5 linked regions of the Homo sapiens genome follow. The protein of the gene in region 5 interacts with the protein of the main gene of each other region in a pairwise test. Each region holds a gene or a part of one and is shown on either strand. Other genes may lie near its edges.

Region 1 (6,969 bases), on a different chromosome or scaffold from region 5:
TATTAGGTATTCAGTAAAGACTTGAGGAGTAAAAGAATGAACTAGAAAATGACAATGTACTGATTATTAATTTATATTTGAGTAAAAAAGACTGTTATTTCCATCAAAATCTGCCTCTAGAATTTTCCAGCAAGAAAGTAAGTGATGATAGTTATTAAAAGCCCTAGCAACAGTTTATATCCTTGAGGTAAAACCATCCTGTTTCAACAGATACCATATTCTCATTGAATTCCACATTAGCTTATGATAAACACAAGATGTTTTTCATAATCTAGATGCAGGTTTTATGCATTTTTTTTTAGCAAAACATACAGGGAACTGCCAAGATGGGAGAGTAATCTTTCCTAAATCACTCCAAATGTCACCATGACTATAAGCATACTTTCCTAAATTGGGGGATTTTTGCTTAAGAAAATATAAGTTCATTCAAATGCTTCACTCACATTATATTAAGGTTTCATCATTTATCCTATAAACAAAATTCTGCTTTTATATACATTAATCACTTTGTCATTCATAGGATCAAACCAAAATGACAACTGCTCACTTTTACTGTCAATACTGCACAGCATCACTTCTTGGGAAGAAATATGTACTAAAGGATGACAGTCCATACTGTGTTACATGTTATGATCGTGTATTTTCTAACTATTGCGAGGAATGCAAAAAACCAATTGAATCTGATTCTAAGGTAAGTCTCACCTCAATTTACAGAATTACTGCCTATGAACAGCAAACAAGTGGGTTGGAGTGCCTCTTTTCATTTAGTGTTGACTTTCAACACTATTTCTCTGCTACTGGATATATAAGGATCTTAAAAGTTACCAGCAGTCAAGCTCCAGCCACTACACTTAGCACTATGAAATACAACATATGCTTAATCCTCACATGATCTTCTAAGGTAGCTGAGAATGCTAAAGATTAAAGGGGTTAAGCTATTTGTCCAAAGTTACACAGCTAGAATTTTCCTGCTGTTTCCAAGCTCTCAGTAACCTTCTGGGTGTGTTTGTTATTTCTGGAATGACAAGGGTATAAATAAATGCATAAAGAATTGAAGTTGAAAGGATTCAAAATCTGTTTTCTGATGTAAAATCAGCTTCATTTCTTACTAAACCCTATTGATACCTCTCACACCTACCACCCCTTCCTCCGACATGCTTATTCTTTCTTTCTTTCTTTCTTTCTTCTTTTCTTCCTTCCATCCTCCGATTATTTTCCTCTCTCTTTCTCTCTCTCTCTCTCTCTCTCTCTGTCTCTTTCTTCCCTCTTTCTGCCTTTGTTTTACTTAGGTGATGTTATTTTTTGTCTGTTTAGTTACATCTCAAAGAGTAATAGAACATTGCACCCTAAAATTTTTAAAAATCATTCCATGAAAAACCTCTATTATAGTTTATAAAAAGAATATAGGCAAATTTTGAAGACACAGCAGAGAATGTATTTGTTTTTTCCCAGCTGCCTTAAGTGACCCACCAAGAAAGCCCTGGGCTCTAGCTCTTAATTACCCCAGAGAGTCTCCTCTCTATGGGTAACAGTTTCAGTAACAACTTTCCCTCACGCTACTAGCACAACCTACTGACATGAGAGTCCCAGGAGTGTTCAGTTTTGTTTCATAAAATGGCCTGTATTGTCACAACCACATTTAATTAACTTTTATTTACTGTCTCAAAGGATCTTTGTTACAAAGACCGGCACTGGCATGAAGGATGCTTCAAGTGCACCAAATGCAATCACTCTTTGGTGGAAAAGCCTTTTGCTGCCAAGGATGAGCGCCTGCTGTGCACGGAGTGCTATTCTAACGAGTGCTCCTCCAAGTGCTTCCACTGCAAGAGGACCATCATGCCTGGTAGGGTCTCAAGGGGGCTCCTGTCTCTAACTGAAGCTGTGATGCTTTTCATTAAGTCCCAGCACATGAGGAGTGCAGCAGCTCCCAAAACCCTGGTTTTGAGAAAGATATCTTTCTTACTCTCTCAATCTTCTTCCGTGTACTTTAGAAATAAAAAGATTATTCATTCATTATCCTTGAACAGGTAAATTACAGTGTTCTGTGTATTTTCATATAGTCTAATTCATAGAAACATTTCAAACCAGAATCTTACCCATAAAATAAAGACAAAATGTATACCAATAACACTACATTAAACACAGTGCCCTAGGCACAATCAATGGCATCAGAAAGAGTGATTCATCATAGGCGATTGGGGCCAACTGCCATTTTGTAGCTTGACACAAACTGTTTTGAGGATCGGTTATTGTTATTCTCTCTTAGGGAAGACAGGGTTCATGTATATCATTCCACTTTTGGCAAGGACTAATTCTTTATATTTTGATCTTCTCAATCTCTATGGTCAGCAGCATAAGAACATAATTCATTCTCTGCCACTCTTGCTCTCTCATTTTCTTATTATGGATTCAGAGAATTTCTAGAAGGCCATAACTGCACAGTATAGTCTCAGTAGTTGTGCTCTGGGCATTTTTAATACCCTTGTAATGATTATTATGGCCCAATTTATCCAAACCATGTGAAACCATTAGGAGTCTCCATTAAAAGTACTTTTACATCTCCAGATTATAGGTTATGCAGAGCTTGAAAAAGTTTTCAGTCTAAGAGTGATTCTCCATCATCATGGCTAAACTTTATTAACCATTTTTTTTTCTCCAGATGAATGGGTTTTTTTGAACCTGAAAAAATACTATTTTTCTAAAAGGACAATTCATTTATCATCTTAACTTAAAACGTTTTTAAGTAATTTGATCTGTATTTGCTTAAAAAATAAAATTATGCTTGACTTATACTAACATGGCCTTACTTTTGGAGTACAGGTTCCCGCAAAATGGAATTTAAGGGAAACTACTGGCATGAAACCTGTTTTGTGTGTGAGAATTGCCGACAACCTATAGGGACAAAGCCTTTGATCTCCAAAGAGAGTGGCAATTATTGTGTGCCATGTTTTGAGAAGGAGTTTGCTCACTACTGCAACTTTTGTAAGAAGGTAATTTTCTAAAGAGGGTGAAGCTTGTGGAAACTCAGACTATTTCTTTTTAGCTGTATCATATATTTAGAATGAACTGATACTATTATGTTATATCTGTAATCAACACACCCATGGTAGTTTGGACTTTCAACATGTCCAAACCACTAGTTGTCACGATGAGCATGACCATCTTTTTTTTTTTTATTAACCATAAAATTCCAGCCACAACAAGAATTTAATATTCCAAACAGCTCAAGTGATTTGGTATTCCAGTTCATTTCACTGTTTTTTGTTGTTGTTGTTGTTTTATTTTTTTGGGATGGAATCTCGCTCTGTCACCCAGGCTGGAGTGCAGTGGTACAATCTCGGCTCACTGCAACCTCTGCCTTCCAGGTTCAAGAGATTCTCATGTCTCAGCCTTCCAAGTAGCTGGGATTACAGGTGCGTGCCACTGTGTCCAGCTAATTTTTGTATTTTTAGTAGAGACAGGGTTTCACCATGTTGGCTAGTCTGGTCTCGAACTCCTGACCTCAGGTGATCCACCTGCCTTGGCCTTCCAAAGTACTGGGATTACAGGCATGAGCCACCACACTCGGCCCATTCACTGCTTTTATACAAGATCTCACGTATTCTGGGAGAAAGCACAGGTCTCTCTTTGAATACAGATGTTTCTTAAAAAATAATGTTTGATCTATTCAGTATTAACTGTTTCAGAGAAATATGGATTTGCCTCACAAAGTGACTAAGGGAACCAAGTTAAACAGGATGTTTAACTTCTCACATTCTTTCTCAGCAATGCAAATGTCTTCTTGACTTGAAGCTTTTGTATTTCCTATGAGTAGGGCAATCGGCTCAAGAGAGTGCCAAGATCATGGGGGAAGTTCAGTAGACAAAAGACAGAAAGAAGACTAAGAGCAGCAAGTTCCTTCACTCCAGTTCCAGGATCATGTAGGGCCTTCTGACTTGGCTTCCCACTCAAAAAAAACATTTTCTAAGAGAAAAAAAAAGTAATATTTTTGAAGTAAACTTCATCCAATTCTTTTTTTATCCTCTAAGCTTTTATGTGAAAAAGTAGCTCTAACACCTTGATGAAGCCTGTCTGCATTCCATAAAATATATATGGAGGTTCTCAAAGAAATCCTTGACCTGCGAGGCATCATAAGTTTAAAATGACACCATAAATTGTCATGAGAAAGCTGAATCATGAAAATACATTGGATTAGTATAGTGGTTTCAAAGTATTTTTTATCTGTGGGTTACTTTGGCAGAACTCTTAAGCCCATTTGTATATCTGGACAGCTGGAAGTCACACTACCACTTTCTATGCACACATATGTGAACACACATGCACATACACACACACACACACACACGCAGTTAACTGTTTAACATACATAACCAATACCACTACTGCATTTAAAGAGGCAGCAATACACTATGCTAAGTTATCATTATTAAATTACACTATGTTGATGGCTGAGAATTACAATTGATCACATGACATAAAATAATCTTATGACTGAGACCTTCATTACTCTACCAAAACACTGGCTTAGAAGGTGACTTTACAAGCAGCAATCAAGCCATATGACATATGAAGCTCCAAAGAATTACCAGGGTCAATGACGGCATTTAAAAACATGCTGGAGCTGGGCATGGTGGCTCACGTCTGTAATCCCAACACTTTGGAAAGCCAAGGTGGGAAGATTGCCTGAGGCCAGGAGTTCAAGACCAGCCTGGGCAACATAGTGACACCCTGTCTGTATAAAAAAAAAAAAAAGTTTAAAAATTAGCCAAGTATGGTGACACGTGCCTGTAGTCCCAGCTACTTGGGTGGCTGAGGCAGGAGGATCACTTGGGCCCAGAAATTCAAGGCTGCAGTGAGCTATGATTGAGCCACTGTACTCCAGCCTGGGTGACAATGAGATCCTATCTCTAAAAAATATACAAAACTTAAAAACTAAAGAAAATAAAATCTTGCTGGAAATAAAATGAATAGGTTTATCTCACTGTTTTGAGAGACAACTGAGTTGGCCAATTTTAGGCTGCATTTCTTAAAGACAGACTAAAACAGTAATGATATTTGTGAGAATTATCCTAAAATCATTTATCAGACACAATAATGAAGACTCTTTCAATGCTATAACAATTCAAGAGTGAAACTTCTTTAGTACATCCATGCTGAGCACTGTCTGGGCCAAGTGCTGATGTTTCCCAGGTTATTGGAGCCTGTAACTATATTTAGGATATGATTTGAAGTCATCAAAAATTTACAAAATATTTATATTGGGTAGTAGACAGATTATGACATGCCAGATTATTTTTTATTTAGTTTTTAAAACCACAAGTCCTTTTCTAAAAAGCTAGATTTGTTTTTGATCAAGATGATCCAATCTAAACAATTTTTTTCAACCCAAACCAAAGACCAAATATTTTCTTAAAAAAAGGAAAAACTACTTGACAACCAGGCTGTTAGAACTTTTAAGCTTTAAAATCCATAGATTTTATTTTGTTAAACTAAGATTTATTTTCTGCCAGAAAGCAAATGATTTTAAACTACAAGTGCTTCAAATTCAAACTCCTCAAGGTTCAAAAGGAGTTAAACGTCTTCTTCGATTTTTCATCTGTCACATAATGAGTGCAAAATCATTATTGCCCCCACTTTTTCACAGAACAAACTTGTTCTAAATCCTGAGATCAATCAGTGGTGAAAACCAAGCTTAGATATTAGACTTTATCTTACCTTCCTACCTCTTCAAAAGGAATATAATCACAAGCAAACTATTTTTGATGTTCCAGAATTTCTTCTCTCTAATTAAACAGTCTTTGGTGTATATATCAAGTTTTATTTTGCTGTGAATACATTTTTCAAGTTTCAGATCTTTTAAGCATTGCCTGCTAATCATCAGACCAAACAAATCAAAGGAATCATGAATTCTGCTGTGTCTGCTGTAAGGCATTGGAAGTCAGTAGGAGGTATTTTAAATTGCTTTACTTCCATCACAACATTATGCTTCCCATTTACTTATTCAGAATAGTATGCTTTTTTCCCTCTAGGAAAATATCTTTCATATCAAATATCTTTAATTTCTAAGATATTTGTTATAAGATTAAAAATACCTTTAGAATAATTTTTTCACAAGTCTATGTAACAGACAAATAACATTTTTGAGTTCGTAAACAACGAGGCGGCTTAAAATAGGCTCTAAGTTTTTACTACCTAGTTAATTTGATACAAAGGTTATAGGAACCACCTCAGATACCCCATTGCTTCAGTCATTATAAAACACTTACAAAAACACATTCCAGTATCTACAGCAATTCTAAGAGCTCATTAGCTGTGAATTCAAAAGGTGATGTGGCTTAAAAATAGTTACATGAGAAAAAATGCCCAAGATTTATCCATCTGATTCTAACTAAAGATTTCTCAGCCTTTTAAAAAGTAGAATTCATGGATTAAATTGGTTTAGAAAGAAAATATTATCTTATGCAGAACTAATTACATCTCAGGCAAAACACTGCACATCACACCTTAAGGCTCAATGTACAACCAGGGCTTATTCCATTGAGTTCTAATTCCCACAGCACCCCACTGCTAGATACAATATTGGAATTGCTTTCCAACTATTTTTTCCTTTGGCATTTATTCATTCATTCAACAAGGATTTTCAACTGCTTATCTGTGTAAGGTAACCTTGACTCAGTATGGCACTGATGGTGATGCACACAGGCTGTGGAATCAGACCATGCAGGTTTGAATCCTAGCTCACTATGGCCATGGCAAGTAACTTAATGACTGTAACCCTCACTAGTTGCTCATCTGAAAAGAGGGAAAGATAATAGTCTGTAGTATGTAGAGGTGTTGAGAATATTCAGAAGAGATCATCCTTAGCACGGTGGTAAGGACTGAAAAAACACTTAAGAAATGGTAGTTGTTATTAGCAAATAATGGTGCTTACCAATTCCATTCAGAATTACTGCTGTTGGATATTCTTGG
Region 2 (3,970 bases), on a different chromosome or scaffold from region 5:
GTCTCTACATGTGACGTTTTCCTGTCCCCTCATTTAAAATAACAAGAGGCTGGGCGCAGTGGCTTACGCCTGTAATCCCAGCACTTTGGGAGGCCGAGGCGGGCGATCACGAGGTCAGGAGATGGAGACCATCCTGGCCAACACGGTGAAACCCCGCCTCTACTAAACTACAAAAAATTAGCCGGGTGTGGTGGCGGGCGCCTGTAGTCCCAGCTACTCGGGAGGCTGAGGCAGGAGAATTGCTTGAACCCGGAGGCGAAGGTTGCAGTGAGCTGAGATCTCGCCACTGCACTCCAGCCTGGTGACAGAGCCTGACTCCGTCTCAAAAAATAAGAAAAAAAAATAAAATAAAAATAATAGAGGCCGAAGCGGGAGGTTCACTTGAGCTCAGAAGTTCGAGATCAGCCTGGGCAACACAGTGAGACCTCGTTTCTATTTAAAAAATAAAATAAAACTAAATTTAAAAAAATGCACGCTCATAGTACAAACTTTAGAAATGGAACGAAAAACTAAAATTGAAGGTATTCCCCTCCAACCCAGAGATAACACCTATCGTTTATTAAGCCCTCACTATTGTTAAACTTAGTTTTAAAGGGCACGATCTCATTTCTTAAAGACTTCTATTCCGCAGAATTTCTTTCCAGGCTTTTTTCTTTTTCTTTTTTTGAGACGGAGTCTCGCTCTGTCGCCCAGGCCGGGGTGCAGTGGCGCGATCTCGGCTCACTGAAACCTCTGTCCAGTCTTTTCGAACCCAAGGCCCAACTGCGCTCTATCTCGACTTTCGGCTCCACTCGGATCCCGAAGTGGCGCACGAGATAAAATGTTGTCAGGCTGAGGTAATTCTCTGTTAGTCCCGGTAAAAATTCGTCAGTCTGGAAAGCTCTCGGTTTGGAATTAAATTCTGTCACTCCGGATGGAAATAAGTCCGCTTAAGGGGGGAAAATCCGTTTGTGGAGGACACGCTCCCGCACGTAACCCCCCGCGGAAAATGACCCCAAGTACCTTTGGCCAGGGATTGCCGCTGCCACGCCGGACTCCATAGCCACGGTCCTGAAACGCCCCGCCGGGCAGGCCGGACCAATGGACGCCGAGCTCGGCCGTGCGTCACGCGACGCTGGCCAATCGCGGAGGGCCACGACCGTAGAAAGGCCGGGCGCGGCGAGGCTGGGCGCTGGGCGGCTGCGGCGCGCGGTGCGCGGTGCGTAGTCTGGAGCTATGGTGGTGGTGGCAGCCGCGCCGAACCCGGCCGACGGGACCCCTAAAGTTCTGCTTCTGTCGGGGCAGCCCGCCTCCGCCGCCGGAGCCCCGGCCGGCCAGGCCCTGCCGCTCATGGTGCCAGCCCAGAGAGGGGCCAGCCCGGAGGCAGCGAGCGGGGGGCTGCCCCAGGCGCGCAAGCGACAGCGCCTCACGCACCTGAGCCCCGAGGAGAAGGCGCTGAGGAGGTGGGCGAGGGGCCGGGGTCTGGGGCCAGATCTGAAGCCGGGACTAGGGACAGGGGCAGGGGCAGGGGCTGGGAGCGGGGACCCAGCACTGGCCGCCCCGCAGGGCTCCGTCGCCTTTGGCCTGGCGGGTCGGTGCCAGCGTGGCGCGGGGCGGGGCAGGAAGCCCGGACTGACCGGATCCGCCACGCTGGGAACCTAGGGCGGCCCAGGGCTCTTTTCTGTACTTTTTAACTCTCTCGTTAGAGATGACCAGAGCTGGGGATGCGGGCACCTGTCTTCCAGGCCCTCTTGCTGTGTGGCCGCAGACTGGTGGTTCAGCCTCTTAACTCGGACATGAGGTCGAATAATCTGTTTTGGTTTACTGCTATTTCTGGAGAGGCGCGGAGCTGAAATAACAGAGCTGTTGAAAGGGCTGGGAATTCTGCGAGGCTCACTGGTCTAGCTCAGTATCTGCGTTCTTAAAATGGAACCTACTTCATGAGGTCTTTGGGGAGATTGAGACTTGGATATAATGTGCCTAGCACTTAGTCCTCCGTAAATGTTCACTCTTTTGTGATCATTGTGCCTTCTGTGATTTATGAAGTGTCTCTTCTGAGTTAATTCTTTTAAAAAAAAAAGTGTCTCCTCCAACAGACACGGACCCATCAGCAGGTCACTGCCTAGGATCTCAACACTAGAGATCAGGGAGTGGCATCAGCCTCTCCCTTTTCTAAATTGGACTGGGGGACGGAGGGTTGATGTCATAGCAAGATTGCAGCCTTCACTAGATTAATGAGGCCAGGTTGGATCCTGTTTAAGAGAACTGGAGACAGGAAGCAGCGGGGGAATAGATGGGGAAAGAGGAAAGTTCCTTATGATGCAAGATGAATAGTGTGTGTGTCCAGCCCCAGTGCTGTGACGGGGATGAGTCTGAGGTGGACGGATGATGCAATATAGGAGAGAATAAAGCAGGTCTTCGAGCTAGATTGACAGAAGACTGTATTTTTTATTTTGTTTTATTGAGGGGAGGAGCCTGAAGTGTATTTTATCATTAGTCTGTCTTATACTGTAAATAAAAATGAAAGCACCAGCTGGTAAAGTTTTCAAATAAAGACATAAATAAGGTTTGATATGACTCAGTGTGGTATGTTCCTTCTCTTCCTAGGAAACTGAAAAACAGAGTAGCAGCTCAGACTGCCAGAGATCGAAAGAAGGCTCGAATGAGTGAGCTGGAACAGCAAGTGGTAGATTTAGAAGAAGAGGTAAAACTACTTAAGGTCAAACTCTTTTATCCATTGTATACCCTTCCTTGGTGAATGTTCTGATATTTGCTTCCCATCCCAAGTTGTTTCAGCCCCTATTAGAATACAATTGAATATATGATTAAAAGTTAAACTAGGCTGGGCATGGTGGCTCATGCCTGTAATCCCAGCACTTTGGGAGCCTGAGTTGGGCAGATCACTTGAAGCCAGCAGTTTGAGACCAGCCTAGCCAACATGGTAAAATCCCGTCTCTACCCAAAAATATACCAAAAAAAAAAAAAAAAAAAAGGCCAAGCGTGAGTGCCTGTAGTCCCAGCTACTCGGGAGGTTGAGGTGGGAGGATTGTTTGAACCTGGGAGAGGGAGGTTGCAGTGAGCTGAGATCGCACCACTGCACTCCAGCCTGGGCAACAGAGTGAGACTCTGTCTCAAGAAAAAAAAAAAAAGTTTGCTGGGCACCGGGGCTCACACCTGTAATCCCAGCACTTTGGGAGGCCAAGGTGGGTAGATAACTTGAGATCAGGAGTTCGAGACCAGCCTGACCAACGTGGTGAAACCCCATCTCTATTAAAAATACAAAAATTAGCCGGGTGTCGTGGCAGGCACCTGTAATCCCAGCTGCTCCGGAGGCTGACGCAGGAGAATCACTTGAACCCAGGAGGCGGAGGTTGCAGTGAGCTGAGATCACGAGATCATGCCACTGCACTCCAGTCTGGGCGACAGAGCAAAAACCCTGTCTCAAAAAAAAAAAAAAAGTTAATCTAAGTTAGGACAGAGAGTTGGTGAAGTGGTGAAGCTTGTTGAGGGCAGAAGTGATTGACTTTGTGGCATTTGGTGCTAGATGTATCTCAAAGTAGATGGATTTAACAATGTTTATTGAGTTTGTAGTAAGAAATTAGCAAGGGCTAATAGGAAATAATTGCTTAAACTTTACATTCTTCCTGGCATGGCCAGAAATTCACTAAAGGTTCCTTTCCCCCTCTAGGGTCCACCTGTTAATCAATCTTAAATTGTTGCCAATTACACATCTTGAATACATAGAGATTATTTATATTGTTTTTTTAACCCCTTGGTCAATTTGCATATATTGAGCTTTTTAAAGTTTTAATCATTAGTTGGTTCTTCTAAGAATCATGAGTCAGGAGCAGGGATTTTTTTTAACTTATTTTGGATTTATAGTCACCACTACCACTTTTATTATTACCTGCCAGTTCAAGATAGTTATTTATTTTTATTTTATATTATTATTATTATTATTATCATCATCATTATTTTGAGATGGAGTCTC
Region 3 (4,176 bases), on a different chromosome or scaffold from region 5:
AACTCACATCGGGAGGTGCAGCCCCAAAGGACCACAGCCCCTAGGCTGGACAACTCCTTCAGTTTGCCCAGCCCCATTTGTTGGGGCTCCTGTTCTTCCTGGGTTACATGCCCAAGAGAAGAACCAAATAGATGAAGAGGGAGGAATTTGTTCAAAGTAGTTATGTACTAATAAGTGAAAGAGGATTGGGTAAAAGAAGAGTCACTGTAGGGGTGGGAAGCAACAATTTAGGTGCAGAGCCCAAGACTCTTTAGTTGTGGTAGCTGTTTGAAATGGCTTAATGGCCAACAGACATAGTGGCCCTGAGAGGTGAGGTGTGATGCCCTCTACATATGCTCAGGGGATTGGCTCACAGTCCCAGAGCACCGGGCCACACCCTTGCACTCTGACATGCTGGAAGTCATGTTTCCTGGAGCTAGTACAGCATTGTCATGAGATTAGGAGCTTCACAGGTAACGCAGCCGCCATCCTGCCCTACTCCCACCCCACAGAGTCTGGAGGTAGTGCTGTACTACAAGGCCAGCCAGAGGAAATTAGATGGACTAGCAAAAGAGGAGGAAAAGAAAGAGGAGATGGAGGAGGAAAAAAAGCAAGTGAAAGAGGAAGCAAAGGAGCAGTGTGGGGATGAGCTAGTTGCTGAGCCAGCAGATCCTGAGGAAGCTAAATCCACAGAAGATCAGGAGGAAAATGAAGAGGACAAAGAGGAAGAGGAGAAGGAAGAAGACAGTGAAGAGGAGGAGGATGACGCCGACTCTTCCCTTGAAAGTCCCGAAGAAAATAACCCCCTCAGACTTTCCGAGAGCAAAAAGGTAACCAGAGCCAAAGCCTAGATCAAGTGGGAAGTGGGGTCTTGGGCTCAGATAACTCCGAGTTAATGGGTGGCCCTGCCAAGGATGGATATCTCCAGGAGTGGAGGCCTCGCGCTCTAAGGCACAACCCTTCGGGGAGGTGGAGATGCAGAAGTGGGAGATGAGAGCAGTCTGTCTGCACGAAATCATGGGCTCAGCCCCGTTTGCTGTGGAACCACCTCACAATGACCACCTTTTCTGGGAACCAGCGTGGGGTCTCTGGAGTCCTTTCATTTACGTAGTAGCCTTTGTTACCTTCCTTATGTCGGGAGTGTTCCCTCATCCCTCTTTTGGCACTGCAGGAAGGACATTGACAGTGTGAAGTCTACTTCAGGCCATTTCTGTCGGTCTGGGCAAGTCACTCAGTCCAGTTTTCCTATGGTGCCCTGTTAGGTTTAACCTTTGTTGTTGCTGTTAGGGGTGTGTCAGGGGATAATCTCTTCTTTGTAGGCTCATGTTGCCCCCTGGATTCTGTATATCACAGGACATGAAGGTGGGGCCTGGAAGTGATCAAGAGTGATAGTGAAAATATTTCACATCTGTACAGTAGGAGCATAGACTAGTCCAAGGAGACCATCCCTAGCCTTAACCCTTCAGTTGCTAGATCATTGAGAGGTTGGGGTGGAGGTATCCTGGGATATATATGCCAGAATGCCAGAGGTAACTTACCAACAATATAGAAGTACTTCCATATTTTAATAACTGGTACGTCTCTGCAGGTATGTAGCAACTGAATTCTTGCCCTGGACTTAACTCAGGGCTCAGAGTCCCTACAGAGTTAGAGTATTTCCTGTGTAAGTCCTCAGCTTACATTACAGGTTCTTTCTGTTCTAAACAGAGGTAAAGAAAAAAAGCCTCTTGTGGTGGGATTATCCAGTCAACTCTGAGGATATCTGGAATTTCCAGCAATTTGGTCTTCAGCACTGGCTAAGGATCCAGTGTGCAGTGCTCTGCTTACCTTGTGCCAGGGGACCATTACCTAAGATGTGGAAAGTCGGAACCACTGCAGCCCCTCCCACTATCATGTTTCCTTGAGCTCATCATATTCCACCACGTGCTGGTTCAGAGCCTCACAGATGTCTTTACCTTCGGTGCCACATTTCTAAAGCTAGACCTGATTTTTCTACTTCAAATATATTCTATGTTTCTATATATGGAGAGATCCCTTTGCCCCGTGGGTCCTGCGTCTTTTGCAGGCAGCTCTAGGGCATGTGTATTACCACCTTGCAAAATCGGTTTCTCTCTGGAAGATTGTTGCAGTGAAAGAACTAGCCCTTCTCCATTGTCAGTTTGTTTCGGTGCATGTTGTCTTACAATGATATCATTAGATTCCTAGGGGATCTAAGGGACCAGAGCCCAAAATACTAAGAAACTTAATGGAAAGCAGGCTAGAACAAAGGGACAGGTGACCTGGTAGAAGACTGGCTCTTCCTAGAGTGACCTAGGAAAAGTCACAAGAAAGGTCTAGATGCAGATACCTCCTGCTTGACAGGATATGAGAGGTATGTGACGAGACAGAAAGAAAACTGGACTCACCGCCTGACTTGGACCTAGCTGCTGCTTAACCCATTCAATTTTGCAATTCCTGCAGACTGCCGGTGGAAAGAACCAAGGCCCAGGCAGCAGAAAAGACATGCAACTGCTCTAGCTTACCTGTTTTTTAACCTCTTGATTCCTTTCTCTTTTCCCTTTGTTTTCTCATCTTCATTATCTGTTGGATCCATGCGTTTATGTCTCACATCTCCTGGTCTCTCCTCGTGCTTCTTTCTCATTTTGGTGTGTTGCAGTCATCCCCTACCCCCAATCCCCCCATCTTCTCCTTGCCTCTTGTAGGCCTGGTGGTCATCTCGGCTTTGCTCTGGTGCTGGTGGGCTGAGACGTCGTCCTAATGCAGGTACTGGTATTGCTTCCTCTCCTTCTGAGGGATAGAGGGAGGGTGCAGGTTGCCCTGGCCTCTCCTCTTTCCCTTTTCTCCCAGCTGCTTGCTTCTTGCTTGTGCCATTTTATAATAGGTGATGCTCAGGTCTGAGTTTTAGTTCTGACTTTTCCTTGGGCTACTGCAAAGCCTCTGACATCTCTGAGCATGTCTTCGTAATGCATAGGAGGTTGGAATGCTTGCCAGAGACATGGTTTGTTTCAATCCTTGGCTGGGAAAAACTTGGATAAGCCCAGCTTGGTTGCTGCTGTCAAAGCTGCCTCACTACTTCTTTATCCCCGCTCATCCTCTGTGTGATGGCTAGCCTGACCACTTCTGATGAGCTGATATTTGCAAGGCTGGCCTGGACTCTCTTTGTCTTGGTTTAACTCCGGAGCCAAGTTCTCACTACTGTTGCTACCCAAGATGGCAAAATAAGGAATCCCTCTTCTGTTGGGAGAGAGAGGAGCTCTGAAGAGCTCTGATCCTCATGATCCTCCCAGGGGCATTGGTAGGAGGGCAACCTAAGCTGGTCCATCAAGCTTGGTGAAATGGAACCGAACCCCTACTGTATTCTGCTCTTTCTACTGAACAGTTCTCTGCTTCTGGACTTCCAGTCTCCGGAAAAGTCAGAACAGAATGCCGGGAAATTTTATTAGTTATCTATTTATCTATTTTGTGGGCCAGATTCCATGGTAATTGGCTTCCCCAGCTAGGTTTTCTGGAGAGAATGAGGTATTAGTGAAAAGTTTCTACTAGCCAGAGATGTGTGTTCTCAGGAAATCAAGACTGATATATTCTGGCCACTTTCCTGTCAGCTCCCACACATGTAATGTACACTGTCAACAGGATACCAAATTCAGGAGGCAGAATGTGGTCTTACGGCCTAAGGTAGAAGCCTGGGGTTCCACCTGCCTTCTGGAACCCATAAGGTATTCTCTCTAGTCCTGCATTGGCTCCTCTCTCATGCTTTCCCTGCCTCCCCCTCCACTCCCCTCTCTTCTCACATTCCTGTGAACGGAATGTAGCTTAATGCACAGGGTGGCAACTGGAGGATTTGTTGGTGGCACTTCTCTCCATTTCCTTTTCTGTCCTTCCTCCTGCTCCCTCCCCAGCTTTCCTGTTACTCATCTTCAAGCCTCCACTTTTCTTCTTGACTTTAGGTATTCCCTTTACTCCCTGGTCCACAACTGCTTTAGTGACGGGGCCCCTCTCTATGACTGTTTCTCCCCTGTCACCCCCCAGAAGTCTTAAGGCACTACGGGTGAAACCCAAAGAGTTCAGCCACAGCCTTCCACTACCTCAGACCCAGCCCGGCCCAATCAGAGGGAGAGGAAGAACTGCTGGTGAAGGGTTCTCCTGGTGGGGCCTGTTATCCCCAGAGCTCCAGGAGGCCCCAACATGCACCTGTGC
Region 4 (5,621 bases), on a different chromosome or scaffold from region 5:
GGGTAGGCAGTGTCAGAGGCTTCACTTGGCCCTCCACACATGCTGTGAAACCACTGTAAGCTTAAACTTGCCCAGGACTCCTGGTATAACCCAACTCCTCCCTCACCCCCTACAAAGAAACAACAGGGACACTGAGTATCTGGATATCAATGTCAATTCAGATTCTATGTTCAACAATCCTTGAAATCCCTTATATTTCCCCTTTCCTAAGCTTAGAATTACCAGAGCAAATGGCTGTGGGTCCCTTTGAGTTAACACCAAAAGGAATCATTACCTTGTACAAATGCCATGGTGTCCTGTCTTTCCTCCTGGGACCCAGCCACCTCTTCAGTCTGGGCTCCAGGTCTGAAAAGTGACTCAGGTCCAGAAACTGAGCAACGGATGCTTTATTTTTATTGGGGTGACTACCATTAGCTTCCATGTAATCCATCCTTAATTTTATCTAATGGGAAAAACTGAGTAGTATTCTTGTTGGCTACCCATTTGTTTTGTCCCTAAAGTGCTGTGTTACATTAGCCTTCTCCATAACTCTTTGCAGGTTAGGACCCCTTGACTACCACTCTCACTTTCTCATTAACTGTAACCCCCTGACTTTTGGCAGTTGGGCACTGCCACTTTAGCCACTATTTTTCAGAATCTTGTCATACATTGCCATCAGCAAGCTGAACTCTGTTTTCTTTTCCTACTGTCTGTATGGCCTACCATGAGCTACCACACGTTTTTAGAGATGCTTATACCCCATCATCAGTGCACATTTCTATGGCACTGTTAAATGGTGTGTCCACTGAGCCTTCCCATGGAACATAATCATCTCATCTTCCAATCCATTCCAGCATACCCAATTCCCTTAACCATTTAAATCCATTCTTCCACCATGTCACAGTAATCCCAGTGTTTCGACTTTGCTCAGAAAGGACCATTACTTTTTCCATATTTCAAGAAGCCATCCTGGTAATGAGTTCGCACCATCTCACAGGATCCTAGCCAGGTTATTAAAACCCTCTAATTTAACTCTTAGCAATCCAAAGATCCAGTGTCAGGGCTGCCATCAAACTCCTCCCTAATTTTATGTTTTGACCCTCTTAAGCACTGATTCCAATCTCAAGCATATTCCTCCAACTCTTCGTAATTCTTGCAGTTCTTTTGGGGCATAGTCTTGTTTCCTCCCACTTCAGTTCCAGCACCTCAACTGAGTTTTGCTTAACTTTATCGTCACTTAACCCTAATTTTAGGCCTGGAGATACTAACTATAATGGCCTAGAGATAGGGCAAGTCTTGAAGAGAGCATGTTTCCCGAGGAAAGAAGCCTCTGCATTGTCATCCAGCCTGAGAATGAAGTGGGGAGTGCTTGCCCTTAACATGGAGGGGTGGGCTATGACTGCAAACTCAGAAATGCAGGAGTCTGGGGAGTAAAAATCTCCAGCACCATCGATTCAGATGTCTCCATCTAATTTGTCAGGGTCACAGGTTTTCCCAAGCAGTTTGCCGATGCTGGCATAATAGACTTGCCTTGGCTGGCAACTGTCTTTAAATTTTATCCTTTGAAACTATTAAGTCTCGGGCTTGCTCCTCAGTTTTTTCAAGCCGTCCTACTGCAAAAGGTGAAAAGCTTTTTCACATGCCACCAGAGGCCCTCTAACTTTGACACCTGGCTTTCCATTGCCTGTTATTGTCCTTGGCTGTTAAGTATGCTTCTATAGAACAAAAATGGCTTAACAATGGCCATTCAACCCTGTTATCCTCATAGCTACAATTTTCTCCATACATCTAAAATGTGAGGCAATCAGATATTGTCTCTCCTTGTACAACTACCCAATCCCTATTAAATGCCAGTGTTAAGTTGTAACAACTGGGACTTGTGACAGGACTGTCCTCCACCTATCAATGATGGGGTCTGGGCTGCTTATCTTTAAGTGTATACCACACAGTCTCTATTACCTATTTCCATATGTGTGAAAACTGAAGCAGTTTGTAAAAAAATTAGAATGCTTTCCAAAACAAACTGAAAATACAGAACAAAAAATTAAATATAATGTCAAAAGTATTTAAGTGAAATAATAGATTTATTCAAAGAGAAATAAAATGTCCTGGGTAAAGCTTCTGTAATAATACTATTTCTGATACTGTATCTCTGAAAAATGGCTAACTAGTCACCTTATCAATACATTTAAGGCATCAATAATAGGTACCACTGAGGACATACATTGTGAAGAAAGAGAAGAATAAGTCAAATACTAAAACATACTTATCATGACAACTCAAGGTGACATGAATATTTAATGAAAATTTAGAATATAACAACATATGACTCTCATTCTGTGGACATAAAAGGAAAAATACAGTAATTCATTTTACTCATTACATTTTACAAAATCAGCCCAATGAAGCAGTATTTTTTAATAAAAACAGTAATTTAATTTCAAACAAATATATTACCATCCTATTCCTTTATCTTGTATATATGTATCTAATTGGCAAAACATACTTTACTGAAATCAGTAACAATCCAATCCATGATACTTCAATTGCTTCGATCAATAAACATCTTAAATTTGAAACTCATTTTTCTTATGCCATAAGCCTGATTATCAGTTCTATAAAAACGCTACACCCTATTGCTTGGCCCATTAAGTGTAACTAGTCTTCTGCACAAGGCTAAGTGGCTAAGGTACTTTTGAACAACCACACACAATTCATCAAGCACACACACTCACTCCTGCTCCTCTCACACACGGCCACCAGAGCAGCTCCCCTAGTTCTCTTGTTCCTCATAGTGAGCATAGCCACTAGCATAGGTCCTTCCTAAATTCAAATTAGTAAACAAATCTGATGACTCAGTATCTGAATCCTTTCTGCCTTCATCTTCTTCCTCTTCATCATCCTCTGCTTCATACTCATCCTCCTCCTCATCGTGGTAGCTGGTATCACCATACTTATCAGATGAAAGGTTCTTCCAATAAGCATCATACCCAGAAGCTCCATCTCCCTCTTCACCTCCAGTCTGCCTGCCAAATTTCAGGGAGCGTGCTATAGAAGACAGACAAGTACAAGGCATTTTGTTAGTTCCAGTTCTCTACATTCTCATCTTCCTCTATAAAATTTCATGGATTTCATTGGCTGCTTCAATCCCAAATGAAAAAATAGGTCACATTTTCCTAATTTTTTCACCTGAGTCTATATACAACACCATAAAAAATAAAAATTACAGTGTAATTTCATTAAATCTAGAAAACAAATTAGACCAACAGACCACTCCAAAGGTATTAAGGCATGTTTAAAACAAAAATACCTTCCGTTTGGCCACTGACAGTTTATTTTCAAATCACATAAATCACAGAATACAGCTGATTTCGTATCAGTACATTTTTCTTAAGACAGCTATTTTACAATGCAGATGCCCTTAAAAACAAAGCCTGTCATTTCTTCTGCCTTAATAGTGACACAAAGTTCAGTGCAGAAGATCAGCAAAATCATCAGTCTCACCTCACCATGCAACTACATCTGTGATTAAACAAAGCAGTCAGTCACTTAGAATTATGGTTCCATTCTGATATGTTTGGTTAAGAGTCAAACTTCTCTTTAACAAAATTGCGAGCTGCATTACTATAAGCATGCTTATTCCTTCACAAAAAAAGTTACATAAAAACCATAAAATAATTTCCTATAGTAGTGCTATATTACATAAATAAACATAGGTGCTCAAATATCACACACCTAAGATAGCTTCAGAGTGAATTTGACTTCTAGGTACTTAAAATTACCACCACTTTAATATTAAGGAATTATAGCTACTCAACTATTTAACAAGGAAGACTCAACAAAAATAAAAAAAAATCACTCTTTATCTTAAATTTCAGTATTTGCTGTCATTAACTAAGGCAAATACCAAATATCAAAATGAATATTGGTCTATTTAAGTAAAACTGAAAAACTTTACCCACATATTTTCCTAAGCTGTAAAATTCCACTTGCTTAAAAGAACACATTCATCTTTTCAAATAAGAAGAGGCAATAAGAAAAATAGACCAAAAAAAAAAAAGATAAACTTTGTCTAAGTATGAAAGCAAAAATCACTTCCTTAGTATCTTAAGGGCCTTACTTGACATGCTAAGGTCCTTAGTCTCCTGAGTTTCATGCCCACATTTAGGACAAGGAGGCTGTTTTCCTTTTTCTTGCTTAAACACTTTGCTCCTTGTATGATCATCACAGAAACAAGCCTGTATAGGAGAAGCAAAATAAAGTAAATAAATAAAAATGTAAAAATATACAAAAAGACAGTATTCAGTGTTTTAAAGATATAGCTTTATTAAGGCAGTGAGATTAACAATTTTGTTGGGAGCAGTCACACTTCTCATTTCATTTTCTTAACAGAAATGGTTTTTGTCAGGACCCTTCTGAACAATGATCTAACAAAAGGCAGACTATATTGAGTATGACATGTAAGTACATTTAGCTGTTCACAAATATTTCAGTACTCATAAGGTCCCTGATGAAATGAAATAATGGTGAACAGCCTATTTACTCTCACACAGTGTATGGTCTAACTAGGGATGGAGACAGTGAAAAGGCAATTACAAGACACTAAGCACTGAACGGGAAGTGCAGAGGGAAGGGCACTAAAGCAGACATGGGATTTGGGAAAGGCATCTTAGAGACACGAAGTCTTAATAGCCATATGAAGAATGGGAGGGCAATAGGGTAAGCCAAGATGGAAAAGTATTCCAGACAAAGAAAACACAGATAATGCCTGAACACCATTTGGTAAAACTAGAACAGAGTTGGAAGATAAATAAGACATAGGGTTAGGAATATAAGAACTAGAGAAACGCTTCTGAGAGGAAGGGCATTGGCTGCATCTGTTTAGTAATCTTTGACGAACGAATGCTAGAGACTAGGCCTAAGGACACAGAAAAATTTGGAAATCTTTACCCAAACTCTTCTAAGCAGGTATATTTTGACATTAATTAAAATAGACTCTCATCATCTTGGTCAGAATGTTCTCCACTAAAAACACAGAGCCAGGATTCCAGAGAAATGTGCACTAGCCACAGCTCTACTAAAAGGTGACTGGATGACCATTGGAAAGTCATGTAAGCTTTCTCAACTTCAATTCCACAGTCTCAAAAATAAAAGAATTAGACTACATAATTTTAAGGTCCCTTATAAATTAATTATAGCTGCATATAAGCCAAGGACTGGTGGAGGGGTATAGAGATTAAAAACAAAATCTAAAAAGAAAAAAACGCATTGGTATACCTTACAACGGAGACATGAGTGCTGACCAAGCCGATTGCATGAAACACCTGTGGGAAATAGATTAATTTTAAAATCCCGTTATTTGGTTCTTAGAATTTTCTTTTGTCTTTTATCAAATCACTAAAAGCTTGCAATGGAATATAGCCTTATAGACAGCTGCCTGTCTTTTGGGTTCAAATGCTATAAAACACACAAAGCTCCCATGCTGCAAATAAAATAATTAAATTTATTATTATACATTCTGCAAAAGGCGACGAAAGGCTCAAAAATGCTATATACTTCGAGATGCTCTTTTAATCTGAGAATTTTATATATAAATATTGCAAGAATTATATACACATGCATACACATTGTGTGTCTATGTG
Region 5 (6,969 bases):
AACAATTAAAGAGTTTAGGGCCGGGCGCGGTGGCTCACGCCTGTAATCCCAGCACTTTGGGAGGCCGAGGCGGGCGGATCAGGAAGTCAGGAGTTCAAGACCAGCCTGGCCAACATGGTGAAACCCCATCTCTACTAAAAATACAAAAATTAGCTGGGCATGGTGGCGCGTGCCTGTAATCCCAGCTACTTGAGAGGCTGAGGCAGAAGAATTGCTTGAACCCAGGAGGCGGCGGTTGCAGTCAGCCAAGACGGCGTCACTCCAGCCTGGCAACAGAGCCAGACTCCATCTCAAAACAACAACAACGATTCACGAATGAGAAACACCCAGTCCTGGCTTGTGGTTTGTCAACGGAAAAAGCCAAGCTATGTAAAATAAAGAAGTTTATTAGGAGCCGAATAGGAGAGCCGTTGGCCGAGGGAAACACAACCCCAAGCAGCCTGGAGTAAGTGGTCCCGAGGCAGCTCAAGACAGTTTGGTTTTATTCATTTCAGAGAGACAGGAATTGCAGGGAAAATCATGAATCAGTGCCTGGAAGGTGTAAGTTCCATTGGCAGAAAGGGTGGGACCTGTGGAAGGGGGGTTAGAAGGCACAGGTAGTTGAGGGATTCTGTAGGTGGCAGCTGGTTGAGAGTGTTGAATCTTTGTCTAAAGTTTGGAGGAGGTAGGAAGGAATGCTGAAGGAAGGGGGTCTGTTATCTGCCACTTCATTCCATCCCAGCCAAAAAACAGACCTGTTTCTCGAGATTTTATGAATTCTAAGGCGTAACTTTACCTTTGCCTTGCGTGGCCTTAGGTCTTGTTTGTAATTTGGTATCTTGTTGCCACAAGGAGTCTGTTTTTCCAGTCAGATAATGTCTGTTTTTACATGAATGTGCGTCAGTTGCTGCATGTAAACTCCTAAAGGGAGAGGGTATAAGGAGACCTGTCTCACCTCCCATCCTGTCATACAGAGGCACTCAATTTTCAGGGTTTTTTGGGGGTTCCCTTGGCCAAGAGCCAGTCACTTCACTTAGCTGGGAAGGTACTTTGTTTTTGTTTTTGTTTGAGACAGAGTCTCCTGTAGCCCAGGGTGGTGTGCAGTGGCTCTATCTTGGCTCACTGCAACCTCCACCTTCCGGGTTCAAGCGATTCTCCTGCCTCAGCTTCCCGAGTGGCTGGGATTACAGGCATGTGCCACCACACCCGGCTAATTTTTGTATTTTTAGTAGAGATGGGGTTTCACCATGTTGGCCAGGCTGTTCCTGAACTCCTGACCTCAAGTGATCCACTGGCCTCGGCCTCCCAAAATGCTGGGATTACATGTGTGAGCCACCTCACCAGGCCAGAAGGTATGTTTTTATTTTTAGTTTACAGGTTGAAGGCTGGACTTTTATAAGGTACATGAGGAGACAAACCAGATAAATGCTTGATTGGTTGCAGAGATGCAGTCACCTTATTTGGACTTGTCAACCCGAAATAATCGAAAGTTTCAGATTTCAACTGGAAGAGTTTATTCAAGCAAAAAGATAGCAATGGCCCATTTGGGAAAAACACAGACTCCAGAGAAATGGACTCAGTACTCCAAAATTGGAAGTTAAGTTCTTGCTTATATTACTGGGAAAAGAGGTCCTGATCAGATCCCAAGAGAGTTCTTGGATCTCATACAGGAAGGAATTCAAGACGAGTCGGAAAGTACAGTGCAAAGAGAGTTTATTGAAAGCTACTCTGGGCCAGCATGATGGCTTAGGCCTGTAATCTAAGCACTTTGGGAGGCCGAGGTGGGAGGATCACTTGAGGTCAGGAGTTTGAGACCAGCCTGGGCAATATAGTGAAACCCCATCTCTTCCAAAAATAACAAAAATTAGCCGGGTGTGGTGGCCTGCACCTGTAGTCCCAGGTACTCGGGAGGCTGGATGGGACAATCACTTGAACCCGGGAGGCAGAGGTTGCAGCCCAGCTGAGGACACGCCACTGCACTCCAGCTTGGGTAACAGAGTGAGACCCCATCTCAAAAAACAAAAACAAAACAAACAAACAAGACAGAGTTCAAGACCAACGTGGCCAACACAGTGAGACCCTGTCTCTATTTAAAAAAAAAAAAGGAAAGAAAGAAAGAAAGCCTCTCTTACAGAGTAGGGCATCCTCCTAAAGCAAGTGGAGGAACGTACTGTCTAAGTTTTTCTTATGTAGGGATCTTGTCTATGTAAAAGACTAAACTGAGCTGTGCCTACGTGCATGTGGGCTGACAGCGTCACAAAATTTATTACTCTGTTGATTTAAAGAAAACTATCCTTTACATTTTAGTGCATACAAGTGCATTAAAACATAACTATAATTATCAGGCCAGGTGTGGTGGCTCACGCCTGTAATCCCAGCACTTTGGGAGGCCGAGGTGGGCGGATCACTTGAGATTAGGGGTTCGATACCAGCCTGATGAAACCCTGTCTGTACTAAAAATACAAAAAAAAATTAACTGGGCATGGTGGCATGTGCCTGTGATCCCAGCTACTCGGGAGGCTGAGACAAGAGAATTGCTTGAACTTGGGAGGTGGAGGTGCAGTGAGCCGTGATTGTGCCATTGCACTCCAGCCTGGGCAACAAGAGTGAAACTCTGTCTCAAAAAAAAACCAAAACGAAACAAACAAAAAAAACTATAATTATCTTGAAAGCACATATTATTATGGGTATTGGGACATCAGGACATTCTGTTGTTGTGGGAGTGTAAGGATACTTGCAGGCATCTTCAGGCTGTCTCCTTCATGGGAAACATTTTGTGATCATGGGTTGCGACTGGCAAGGAGTGTTTCTTGTTAGTCTCAAGATGGAGCTGAACTTAAATTGGTGTGTTACTCTGGCTCCCCTAGGCACCTGCTTCCCTAACACTTATATAGGCGAAAGGCAAATAAATATAACAGGATTACATTTTCCATAGAAGGCTGATGTATGAGGTACAACAATTTAATTATTATTATTATTATTATTATAGACAATATCTTGCTCTGTGGCCCAGGCTGGAGCAGTGGTGCGATCATGGCTTACTGCAACCTTGACCTCCCCGGCTCAAGCACCTCCGCCTCCCAAGTAGCTGAGACTATAGTCGCCCACCAGCACACCTGGCTAATTTTTTATTTTTTACAGAGGTGGGGTCCCAATACATTGCTCAGGCTGGTCTCTAGCTCCTGGCCTCAAACAGTCTTCCTTCTTTGGCTTCCAAAATAGCTGAGATTACAGGCGTGAGCCACTGCACCTGGCTAACAACCTAATTCATTATGGTTTTTTTTCCCCCAGAGCTTGTTTTCTTTAAAGCTCGTTTTTATTTCCTTTTCAATTTAAGAGTGAATTTAACATTCCAGCTGAAGACAGTGTGATAGCCATGAAGTCTTTGTGTGAGAAAGTTAAGAGGGAAGTTAGTCTACTACAGAGATCAGTAGTGAAGAGAGGCCCTGTGGGATGGCTCACACCTGTAACCCCAGCACTTTGGGAGGCCAAGGCAGGTGGATGGCTTGATCTCAGGAGTTCAAGACCAGCCTGGGCAACATAGTGAGACCCTCCCCCCCATCTCAATTATGAAAAATCATATTAAATTTTAAAAAAATAGTGATGAGGGAAAGGGTCTTTCCTGTTTTCCCTCAGTCATTTACAACATTTTACAAAACAGTATAGGTAAGAAAGAAGGCGAATCTGTAATCAGGGAAAGGAGGGTTCCAACTGGCTATGTAAAAGCTGTGTGTCAGGTGACTCAACTCCATGATCACATTGCTTAAAGATAATTTAGAGATTAAATTTTTTAATTACTTGTGTTTTGTTTGTTTGTTTTTTTGATTTTTTTTGAGACACAATCTTACTCTGTCACCCAGGCTGGAGCGCGGTGGCACCATCTGGGCCCACCGCAGCCTCTGCCTCCTGGGTTAAAGTAATTCTCCTGCCTCAGCCTCCCAAGTATCTGGGATTACAGGTGCGTACCACCACACTTGGCTAATTTTTATATTATTAGTAAAGGTGGGGGTTTCACCATGTTGGCCAGGCTGGCCTCGAACTCCTGGCCTCAAGTGATCCGTTCGCCTTGGCCTTCCAAAGTGTTGGGATTACAGGAGTGAGCCACCATGCCTGGCCTGACTTACTTGTTCACACAGCCTATATAGGTAGAAGATTTCTAGTCATGTAATCACAGGTTAATTGGTGGATTATGCCTGATTAAGCATAAATTTCATTTCCCTATAAATTAGTAATTTTCAAGTGTTTTATTTAAATTTGATTTTAGTGTCCTTAGGTAGGACCTTAGAATACTACACACAGTTTGGTCTCATTGCTTCTTATTTAAATTTTTTCACACTTTCCAGGGTGAGTGGTTTCCCACTACAATTTCCAAATATACGGGATGCAGGGCCTCAAATCCTCCACCCTCATACCACAGCCTGACTCTTCAAGGGCTTGCAGTGAAATCTGTGTCTGAACATTTCACATGAGAGGAAAGCAGAGAATAACCACTAGACATTTTCCCGAGAAAACCTTTCTGCCTCTCCTCCTTTTATCTTTCCTAGACACAGTCACCTATCAGGATGTCTTTGGGATGAGGTTCCTTTGTGGAAACTTTACAGGGTGATGTGTCTTCCATACACCCTCGTATCCTTTTTGTTTGTTTGTTTTTGAGACAGAGTCTCACTCTGTCGCCCAGGCTGGAGTGCAGTGGCGCGATCTCGGCTCACTGCAAGCTCCGCTTCCCGGGTTCATGCCATTCTCCTGCCTCAGCCTCCCGAGTAGCTGGGATTACAGGCACCTGCCACCACGCCCGGCTAATTTTTTTTGTATTTTTTGTAGAGACGGGGTTTCACCGTATTAGTCAGGATGTTCTCGATCTCTTGACCTTGTGATCCGCCCGCCTCGGCCTCCCAAAGTGCTGGGATTACAGGCGTAATCCGGCCACTGTGCCCGGCCCTACACCCTCCTGTCTTTTCCAGGTTTCGGGTTTTAGAACGGCCTGGGGATGACTCAAAATCCCCACGACTGCCCTGTCTCCTGGAGGGTCTAGTGGCTATCAGTGCCTAGGGGAGTGGAGCCTCCTGAGGGAGCAGCTGAATGAATAATAGTGGAGGAGATGCCTGGTATGCTCTTCATCTACATAACCAATACTTGGGGTGCTCAGCTTCTCTCTCCCAACTCCAGTTTCCATTCATTGGAGACACATGACCGTCAGCCAATTGGATGTTGCTATTGAGGAAAAGGAGAAATGATTCCTATCTTCTGGATTGTCTCATCTCTGAAGAGAGAACTCAGAGAACTCCCAAAAGACAAGGAAAGGCCACTTCAACGGGGTGGAGCAATAGCCTGCAAAGCAAAATATACATGGGGGTACACAGGGGACACAATGCCGTGTTGGTGGGAAATAGTCAATTAGCACTTCTCCTTTCCTCTATGTGAAATGTTCAGAGAATCACCACCAGACACTTTCCTGTCAAAATATGCATGCTTCTCCTCCATTCATCTGTTCTGGAAACAGATTTTATCAGATTGTCTTTTGGTTGAGGCTCCCCTTTGGAAACTTCAAAGGGTGTTATGTCTTCAGCGCACTCTCCTATGTTTTCTTGGTCCTGGGTGGCAGAATTGGGGTGACCTAATATGCCCACAGTTGCCATGTCTCTTGGAGGGTCTAGTGAGTATCAGCCGGAGTCACTCCTCCCAGGGGACAGACTGAGGTAGGAGAATGGGGACTCCCAAGAGAGCAGCTGAATGCCTTGTGATGGAAGGAGACTCCTAGTATACTCTGCATCTAGATAGCCAACCCCTCGAGATGCTCAGCATTTCTTTCCAAACCCCAGTTTCCTGAACTTGGAGACCTATGGCTGGTCAGCCAGTTGGATGGTGCTATTGAGAGAAAAGAGAAATGCTTCCTGTCCTCTGGATTGTGTCAACTGTGAAGGGAGACAAAACCCCAAAAAACAAAGACCACCCCAGCAGGGTGGACCAGTAGCCTGCAAATCAGAATATGAAAGGGGGCACACAGGGGGGTATAGTGCAGTGTTGGTGGAAAGTAGTCATTGAGCGCTTCGGTGAGCAGGATGGGGGTGGAGAGATGTCTCATGTGATAGGGTGACTGTGCTGACACATGAGTCAGACATCACTGTGTTCCAGCCAGCACGGCCCCTCTGTGGGCTTGTCCCTTGTAAAGAATTGTTCATAGATTGCAGCTTGAGTGTTTCAAATTAACTTTACATTGCATTTGTCACTAGAACCAAATCCAAGAATGATTGCGTAGGTCAGTGAGACACAGAAGAGGCAACTCAACAAAGCCCATGACATACAGTGCATGGCTCACAATCCCAGGAGATGAGGGCAGCACAGCTGCAGAGCAACACAGAGTGGGGGGAACATCCAGGATGCACATTCAACCAGTAGGTGGGGAGCAAGACAGACAGGGACCTGTGGGCCAAAGCGTTTCTTGGGGTCTAGGGAATTGACCAAGGAGGTGTCTCTTGGGGAGTTGTTTCTGGTGGATTTAGAGCAAGCAGGCACTAGTTCTGTGAAGTCGCACTGTGATTAAGAGGTGGTCTGTACCATCCATGTGGGGTGTAAGGGTCAGTGGTACAAGTCAAATTGGTTATATCTAGCTGTCCCACAGGGAGGTGGTCACCAGAATGCAGTTGTGTAATAAATATATGTGAGTTGACCACATGGAGGAACTGGGAGAAAGTGGAGAACTAGAAACTCTGTTGAGTTTGAATAAAGTTTTCTTCCGTTATGAGAAAGTTAAATCCTTAAAGAAAATGCATGCTAAGGTAACATATAATTATAAGAACTCAGTATAAGAGGCAACTCTAGAATTAATTAAATTATTGTATATGGAGATGACAGGTAGTGGATTGATTATTCTCCTGTAGATAACCATTTGTCCCTGCTTTTTCTGTTAAGTGTTCACCACTTGTATCATTGGCTGGCAATACCTGGTTTGTCATAGTTTCACATTACCTTAAACAGATGCCCAGACTGGGC

Evidence for each region.
Region 1: the proteins of ZNF440 (region 5) and FHL5 interact in binary tests that used the Homo sapiens proteins (3 or more experiments, as listed by UniProt).
Region 2: the proteins of ZNF440 (region 5) and XBP1 interact in a two-hybrid assay, tested with the Homo sapiens proteins (one large-scale study listed by BioGRID and IntAct).
Region 3: the proteins of ZNF440 (region 5) and CCDC136 interact in a two-hybrid assay, tested with the Homo sapiens proteins (one large-scale study listed by BioGRID).
Region 4: the proteins of ZNF440 (region 5) and ZNF330 interact in binary tests that used the Homo sapiens proteins (3 or more experiments, as listed by UniProt).

What each region holds. Positions count from the first base shown.
Region 1 is NC_000006.12:96,603,082-96,610,050, forward strand, and holds part of FHL5 (four and a half LIM domains protein 5), read left to right. Parts: intron 1-520; 5' UTR 521-532; coding exon 533-691; intron 692-1,668; coding exon 1,669-1,843; intron 1,844-2,820; coding exon 2,821-2,990; intron 2,991-6,969. UniProt on the Homo sapiens protein: May be involved in the regulation of spermatogenesis. Stimulates CREM transcriptional activity in a phosphorylation-independent manner.
Region 2 is NC_000022.11:28,797,770-28,801,739, reverse strand, and holds the start of XBP1 (X-box-binding protein 1), read left to right. Parts: upstream 1-1,170; 5' UTR 1,171-1,215; coding exon 1,216-1,442; intron 1,443-1,662; exon of another isoform or gene 1,663-1,703; coding exon of another isoform or gene 1,704-1,780; intron 1,781-2,586; coding exon 2,587-2,683; intron 2,684-3,970. UniProt on the Homo sapiens protein: Functions as a transcription factor during endoplasmic reticulum (ER) stress by regulating the unfolded protein response (UPR).
Region 3 is NC_000007.14:128,815,123-128,819,298, forward strand, and holds part of CCDC136 (coiled-coil domain-containing protein 136), read left to right. Parts: intron 1-491; coding exon 492-809; intron 810-2,635; coding exon 2,636-2,737; 3' UTR 2,738-2,742; intron 2,743-4,008; coding exon of another isoform or gene 4,009-4,176. UniProt on the Homo sapiens protein: May play a role in acrosome formation in spermatogenesis and in fertilization.
Region 4 is NC_000004.12:141,231,121-141,236,741, reverse strand, and holds the end of ZNF330 (zinc finger protein 330), read right to left. Parts: intron 5,304-5,621; coding exon 5,257-5,303; intron 4,218-5,256; coding exon 4,100-4,217; intron 3,028-4,099; coding exon 2,753-3,027; 3' UTR 2,045-2,752; downstream 1-2,044.
Region 5 is NC_000019.10:11,815,605-11,822,573, forward strand, and holds part of ZNF440 (zinc finger protein 440), read left to right. Parts: intron 1-6,969. UniProt on the Homo sapiens protein: May be involved in transcriptional regulation.